Homo sapiens: one gene and its partner. The protein of the gene in region 1 interacts with the protein of each later gene in a pairwise test. Each region holds a gene or a part of one and is shown in the gene's direction. Other genes may lie near its edges. The genes, in order: CLPB and SMAD9.

The links.
Region 2: the proteins of CLPB (region 1) and SMAD9 interact in a two-hybrid assay, tested with the Homo sapiens proteins (one large-scale study listed by BioGRID and IntAct).

What each region holds. Positions count from the first base shown.
Region 1 is NC_000011.10:72,284,891-72,288,496, reverse strand, and holds the end of CLPB (mitochondrial disaggregase), read left to right. Parts: 3' UTR 1-3,002; downstream 3,003-3,606. UniProt on the Homo sapiens protein: Functions as a regulatory ATPase and participates in secretion/protein trafficking process. Has ATP-dependent protein disaggregase activity and is required to maintain the solubility of key mitochondrial proteins.
Region 2 is NC_000013.11:36,844,133-36,847,377, reverse strand, and holds the end of SMAD9 (mothers against decapentaplegic homolog 9), read left to right. Parts: 3' UTR 1-2,547; downstream 2,548-3,245. UniProt on the Homo sapiens protein: Transcriptional modulator activated by BMP (bone morphogenetic proteins) type 1 receptor kinase. SMAD9 is a receptor-regulated SMAD (R-SMAD).

The sequences.
Region 1 (3,606 bases):
TGTTTTTTGAGACAGAGTCTTGCTCTGTCGCCCAGGCTGGAGTGCGGTGGTGCAATCTTGGCTCACTGCAACCTCCACCTCCAGTTCAAGCAGGTCTCATGCCTCAGCCTCCTCAGTAGCTGGGACTACAGGCATATGCCACCATACCCAGCTAATTTTTTTTGTATTTTTAGTAAAGACGGGGTTTCACCATGTTTGCCAGGCTAGTCTCAAACTCCTGGTCTCAAGTGATCCACCCACCTTGGCCTCCCAGAGTGCTGAGATTACAAGCGTCAACGACTGTACCCGGCCCCAAATTCCTTATTGAGGATCCTAGAATACATGAGACCAGACTTGGAAATGAAAGTGTAACATGTTTATTGTTCAAAAAGAAAAACTCAAAGGTGTGTAGTGATTTTAAAATTTAGGGAAATTCCTCAATATAGTGAAAGAAGAAAAACAAGAAAGAAATTTAGGAAAGAAACACACTTAAACCATAAAAAATAGAAAATGGACCAATAAAGATAAAAGCTAAACTTAACAAGGTAGGAAAAAGAAAAAGAATAAATTAAAAAATTCTTTGAAAGCACCAATAAAATAGATAAAACCTCCTGAGCCTGATAAAAGGGGAAAGGAGCCAAAAAAATTAACAAAATTAGGCATGAGAAATTAGACATAACCATATATATTGAGGAATTGAGAAGAAGAATAGAACTCTATGGCAACAAATTTGAAATCAGAGGAAATGGATAATTTCCCAGCAAACACTGATCCTAGAAATAGTTTGAATAGGCCAGTTGGTTACCCAAGAAGAAACTGGAAAGGTGGTTAAAATTTTATCCTTTTTGAGCACCATAAGATGGTGAAAAATAAATAAAATTTTATCCTTGTAAAAGATTGATGGCCAGGCATGGTGGTGGCCCACACCTGTAATCCTAGCACTTTGGAAGGCCAAGGCAGGCAGATCACTTGAGCCCCGGAGTCTGAGACCAGCCTGGGCAACATGGCAAGACCCCACCTCTACTAAAAATACCAAAATTAGCCAGGCATGATGGTGCTTGCCTGTAGTCAACAGCTACTTGGGAGGCTGAGGTGGGGAAGATGGTTTAAGCCCAGGAGGCAGAGGTTGCAGTGAGCCAAGACTGTGCTGCTGCACTCCAGCCTGGGTGACAGAGCGAGACCATGTCCCAAAAATAAAAAATTGTTTTTAATTAAACTTTTTAATTGAAAAATATATGGGAAATTGTACAAATCACAAGTATGCAGCTCAGTGAATGATTACAAAGTAAACACACTCCTATAGCCATCACTCAACCCCCAAAATAGATGAGTTTTAACTATTATTGTACTCAAACCTGATAAAGTGCCAGAAAGAATGCTATAGCCTAATCTCACCTATGGCCATAGATGCAAAAATCCCAAATAAAATCAAGTTGAATTGCACACTCTGATTACATAAGGTTTATTTTAGCAATGCAAGGCTCAGTGTCAGGAAATTTATTAATTTATTACATCAAGAACTTAAATGTTATTTAAATGTCTAGAGAGTGCTAGTGTTGTTAAATTTTCTCATTTTGATAATTATACTATGATTACAGAAGAGAACGTCCTTGTTTTCAGAAAATGTAAGTATTTAGAGGTTAAAGGTAAACCTCTAATTTGGTTTGCCAGTATTTCAGATAACTACACACACACACACACACACACACACACACACGGAATGATAAAGCAAAAAGTAAGGTGTTGGCAAGGCATGGTGGCTCACACCTGTAATTCCAACACTTTGGGAGGCCCAGGCAGGTGGATCACCTAGGTCTGGAGTTCGAGACCAGCCTGGACAACATGGTGAAACCCCTCTTTATTAAAGTACAAAAATTAGCCGGACATAGTGGCACATGCCGGTAATTCCAGCTATTTGGGAGGCTGAGGCACAGGAATCCCTTGAACCTGGAGGCAGAGGTTGTAGTGAGCCTACATCACACCACTGCACTCCAGCCTGGATGACAGAGTGAGACTGTCTCAAAAACAAACAAAAAAAAGATGTTAACATTTGGGAAATCTGAGGGAATGATGTACATGAATTCTTTGTATTGTTTTTGCAACTTTTAAGTATAAAGTTATTTCAGGCCAGGCATGGTAGTGCATGCCTGTATACCCAGCTACTCGAGGCTGAGGTGGAAGATTCCTTGAGTCTAGGAGTATGAGGTTACAGTGAGCTATGATCATGCCACTGCACTCCAGGCTGGGTGGCAGAGTGACACCCTATCTCTTAAAAAAAAAAAAAAAAAAAAAAACAGGTGCAGTATCTCACACCTGTAATCTCAACAGAACACTGAGGGGTCAAGGCAGGTGGACTGCTTGAGCCCAGGAGTTCAAGACCAGCCTGAGCAACATGGTGAAACCCCATCTCTGCAAAAAATTAGCTGGTTGTGGTGGCATCCACCTGTGGTCTCAGCTACTTGGGAGGCTGAGGTGGGAATATAACTGGAGCTCAGGAGGTGGAGGTTGCTGTGAGATGAGATCGTGCCACTGCACTCCAGCCTATCTCCAAAAAAAAAAAAAAGGCTATAGTAGAAGCCTATTAGCATGGATAAGTGTCTGAATAAAAGATAACTGTACAAAAATCAATTGTTTTTTCTGTATTCTAGCAATAATCAACTAGAAACAGTATCAAAAGAAAAACATTCCATTTACAATTGCAACAAATAGGTATATATATATTTGCTCTTCTACACATAACCTATTTCTGGAAGGGAGCAGAACTGGGCAATTCAGGGACAGCAATGGAAGGGGAACACTGCTATGTTATTTTAAATACTTTTTAGTAAGCTTTGAACCATATTAATGTATTACCTGTTCAAAATTATACTTAATAAATTTAACAAGAAAACCATATTGAAGGGCATAAAAATAAGACCTGACAAGTGAAAAAACATCAAGTTTTAGAAAGGATGATTTAATACTAAAATATACATTTCTTAATATATAACTTAATGTAAACCTAATAAATAATTTAATACAAATCTAATTGACAGCACTTTTAATTAAATAATGTTAAGGTCATACTGCACTACTATGTCCAGAGGCGATGCTACATGGAGCTACTGTTTTCTGGGTCTAGCCTCTCAGGAAATAGTCATTACTACTTTTGCAATCCCATCTTGACAGTATGCAAAAATTAGGGAAAATGTAAATTTATTATTAACACACACCCTAAATACAATTATGAGAGAAAGGAAAGAGAAGGGTTACTGTCTGTGGCTGGAGTATAGTAGCTGTGTATGAGTGTGGAGAAGAGAGGAAATTGGTGGAAAATGAAGCTAGAGAGGCAAGTTTCCTGATTTCAAAGTGCCCTGAATGCCATGCTAAGGGAATGAAATGACCAGATTTGTGTTTTAAAAGACCCTTTGTTTGCATTGTGTAGAATGATTTGGGATGACTTCTGACCAATATACAACAGAGAGTAATTTCAGGCAAACTCTCTTCCACCTCAAACAGAAATATTTAATATATGTAATAAGACAAGAAAGTTTAATACACAACTAGACTTGAAACCAAGAATGGGAAATCCCAGCCATGTACAGTGGCTCATGCCTGTAATCCCAGCACTTTGGGAGGCCAAGGCAG
Region 2 (3,245 bases), on another chromosome or scaffold:
ATACTTGCCATGCACTAAACACTGCATTGCTTGGAAAAATATTTCACACCCTCTTTAAAAATGTACAATTTAAGATGGCAGTTATGCTTGTAACAGACAGCACTTCAGTAATCCAAGAAGTTTCTTCATTTATACATTTTATCTCAACTCTTTCTAGCATTAGTGCACATGGTAGTTTTTCTAATTAAATTGTATTCAAGGTAGAAATGATCATGTGAGAAAGATATATGATTGAGCTACTACTGTCACCTCTTACAGTTACTAGTGTTAGCTAATAGAAACTTTCATATATACACATAGAAAAGAATTATTACATTTTACATTGAAAAATGTAATATATGGCCCATGTAGTGTATAGAAAAATCTGTAGTTTATTGGTTCATCAACTATGTATTGTGCACCTACCTATGGGTGTCAGGTACAATGTTAGGTACTGTAGAATCAAATGTAAATAAGAGACAGTCCCAGCCCTCAGGGAGCCGAGAACCTAATAGTGAATCTGTTTGTACAGACATCTTCATGTTTCAGAACTTTTAAAACAAAACAAAATAATGTAATCTATCATCTTTTGCTTGAAAGAATGTGATTGATTTCTTATCTCTGTTTTGAAATTATTTCCTTACTCTTCTGCAAAGTCAGGTAATGGATTCCTTGTATAAATGCTACTTTTCTTCCATGTCTCAAAGTTGTTTTTTTTCCTCCCCTTTCTTCCCTGTTTTCCAATAATTCTCCATGTCCCCTTTTCTTAGAAAAGGCATTAATATGGTGAATCTTGTATGGGAACCATTCCATGGGAGAACTTCAACACAGTTTTTGCTCCAGAGATCAAACATAGCTTTCGTGATCTCTCTACCAGCTATCTAACTTATCCTCTGGTAATCTTTTTTTTTTTTTTTTTTTTTTTGAGATGGAGTCTCGCTGTGTCACCAGGCCAGAGTGCAGTGGCGTGATCTTGGCTCACTGCAACCTCTGCCTCCCGGGTTCGAGTGATTCTCCTGCCTCAGCCTCCCAAGTAGTTGGGACTACAGGCTACCACGCCCAGCTAATTTTTATATTTTTAGTAGAGACGGGGTTTCACCATGGTAGCCAGAATGGTCTCTATCTCTTGACCTTGTGATCCGCCCGCCTCAGCCTCCCAAAGTGCTGGGATTACAGGCGTGAGCCACTGCGCCCGGCTTCCTCTGGTAATCTTACACCTTTACAGAATTAATCTAAACTGGTGGCTCATAAATGACATTAAAAACAAAAAAAAAATCTGGATGCAGTGGCTCATTCCTATAGTCCCAGCACTTTGGGAGGCCAAGGCGGGAGGATCATCTGAGCCCAGGAGTTTGGGGCTGTAGTGAACTATGATCATACAACTTCATTCTAGCCTGGGTGACAAAGTGACACCCTGTCTCTAAACAAAAATCAAGAAACAAAAAACTTGTATTTCCCTGCAGCTTTGGGAAGCCAGAACACAATATTGCAGTGAATCTGAATTTTCTGTGACAAATAAATTATTAAATTGGCACATATGATCATCACCAGTCATGTCTCATCAAAAGCCTTTATTATGATGCTTGTACATTTTGAAGAATTTAGAATTAATGAGAAGTTAACCCTTTAGTCATTGTAACACAATCATATTTTAATCAGCTTTTTCTTTTGCTACCAAGAGTTTCAAAAAATAAATGCAGTATTTGATTTCAGGCTGCTAAATGGGCTCATTTAGCATTCATTCCTTGATGTAGACATTAAAAAAAAAACTGAATAGCATTCTTTCCAGGATAACTAATAAAGCAGACATGCTAAGCCTATAAATACATCAGCACTGCAGCACACGTTTAAGGTTGCCACGGACAAGGATCACACAATAGAGAACACTGTAGTAACATTTCGGTCTGCTCACAAGACCCAGAACATTGATCAGTTTTTGTTGTTGGTTTATTATTTTTCTGTTAAAAAATTGTGAAAAGTTTGTTTTAGCTAGATGATATTTTAATAGCTGCGAGTGCTTTGGAACTATAAAGATGTCACTACTTAACACATATACCTTATGTTTTGTTTTGTTTTGTTTTACACTCAGTATAAATCAGGAGAAGTTAGCCAACCATCTAGCATTTAGAATCCTCTTTTTTATTGTCTTCTAAGGATATGGATGTTCCCATAACAGCAACAAAACAGCAACAAAAACATTTCATAAATATCACTTGATAGACTGTAAGCACCTGCTTAACTTTGTGTCCCAAATATTTAGTGTGTATATATATATATATATATACACACACACACACATATATATTCAACAAATAAAGCAAAATATAACATGCATTTCACATTTTGTCTTTCCCTGTTACGATTTTAATAGCAGAACTGTATGACAAGTTTAGGTGATCCTAGCATATGTTAAATTCAAATTAATGTAAAACAGATTAACAACAACAAAGAAACTGTCTATTTGAGTGAAGTCATGCTTTCTATTATAATAACTTGGCTTCGGTTATCCATCAAATGCACACTTATACTGTTATCTGATTGTTTATAATAAAGAATACTGTACTTATATGTCTTTTGGCTCATTTTTCCTGTAAACCTCATAGAAGATTCACTGTATGTGGGTCTGCAGCTCCTTAAGTCAATTAATTTTAAACCATTCTATTTTGAAAATGGGATGTTAAATTCCACATGCTATAGAGAAATTAGGTAGTGGTTTTGAATTAAACACCTTAGAATAACCGTCATGAAGTATAGTTCTTGAAGATACTTCACAGTAACTTTAGAAAGGATATATGTAGAACCTTTTTCTGGATAGTAGCAAATACGTGATATTGCAGTATATAGGAAAGAATGAGCACTTTCATTATTGTAAACATCTGTACATTGCTACAGATTGCCTATTAGAAAGGTGCTAAAAGGCAACTGGTGAGGGAAAACTAAGATGAAATCCAAAGAAATATGAACACATCATCTAAAAATGTAAATTCTCAATTCCTTTCATCTAAATTTCCTTCTAATCTTAAAAAGGAAGGGGAAACTCTATTACCTATAAGCAGCTTTCTTATTTACTTGATCAGAGTTGTCAATTTTTTTAACGAAATGGAGCTCTGTATTCAAAAAAAGTGTTTTGTGGAACTCCAAAATAAAAACACATGAAAGATATGCCTGTTTAGATCCTGGTGGGGACCGTGAAGCCTCCAGTTTACACTGTAAGTTTCTGGAGAGCAGTGATTGTGTCTTGTTTGTCTCCCATGGTTCCCGACCCT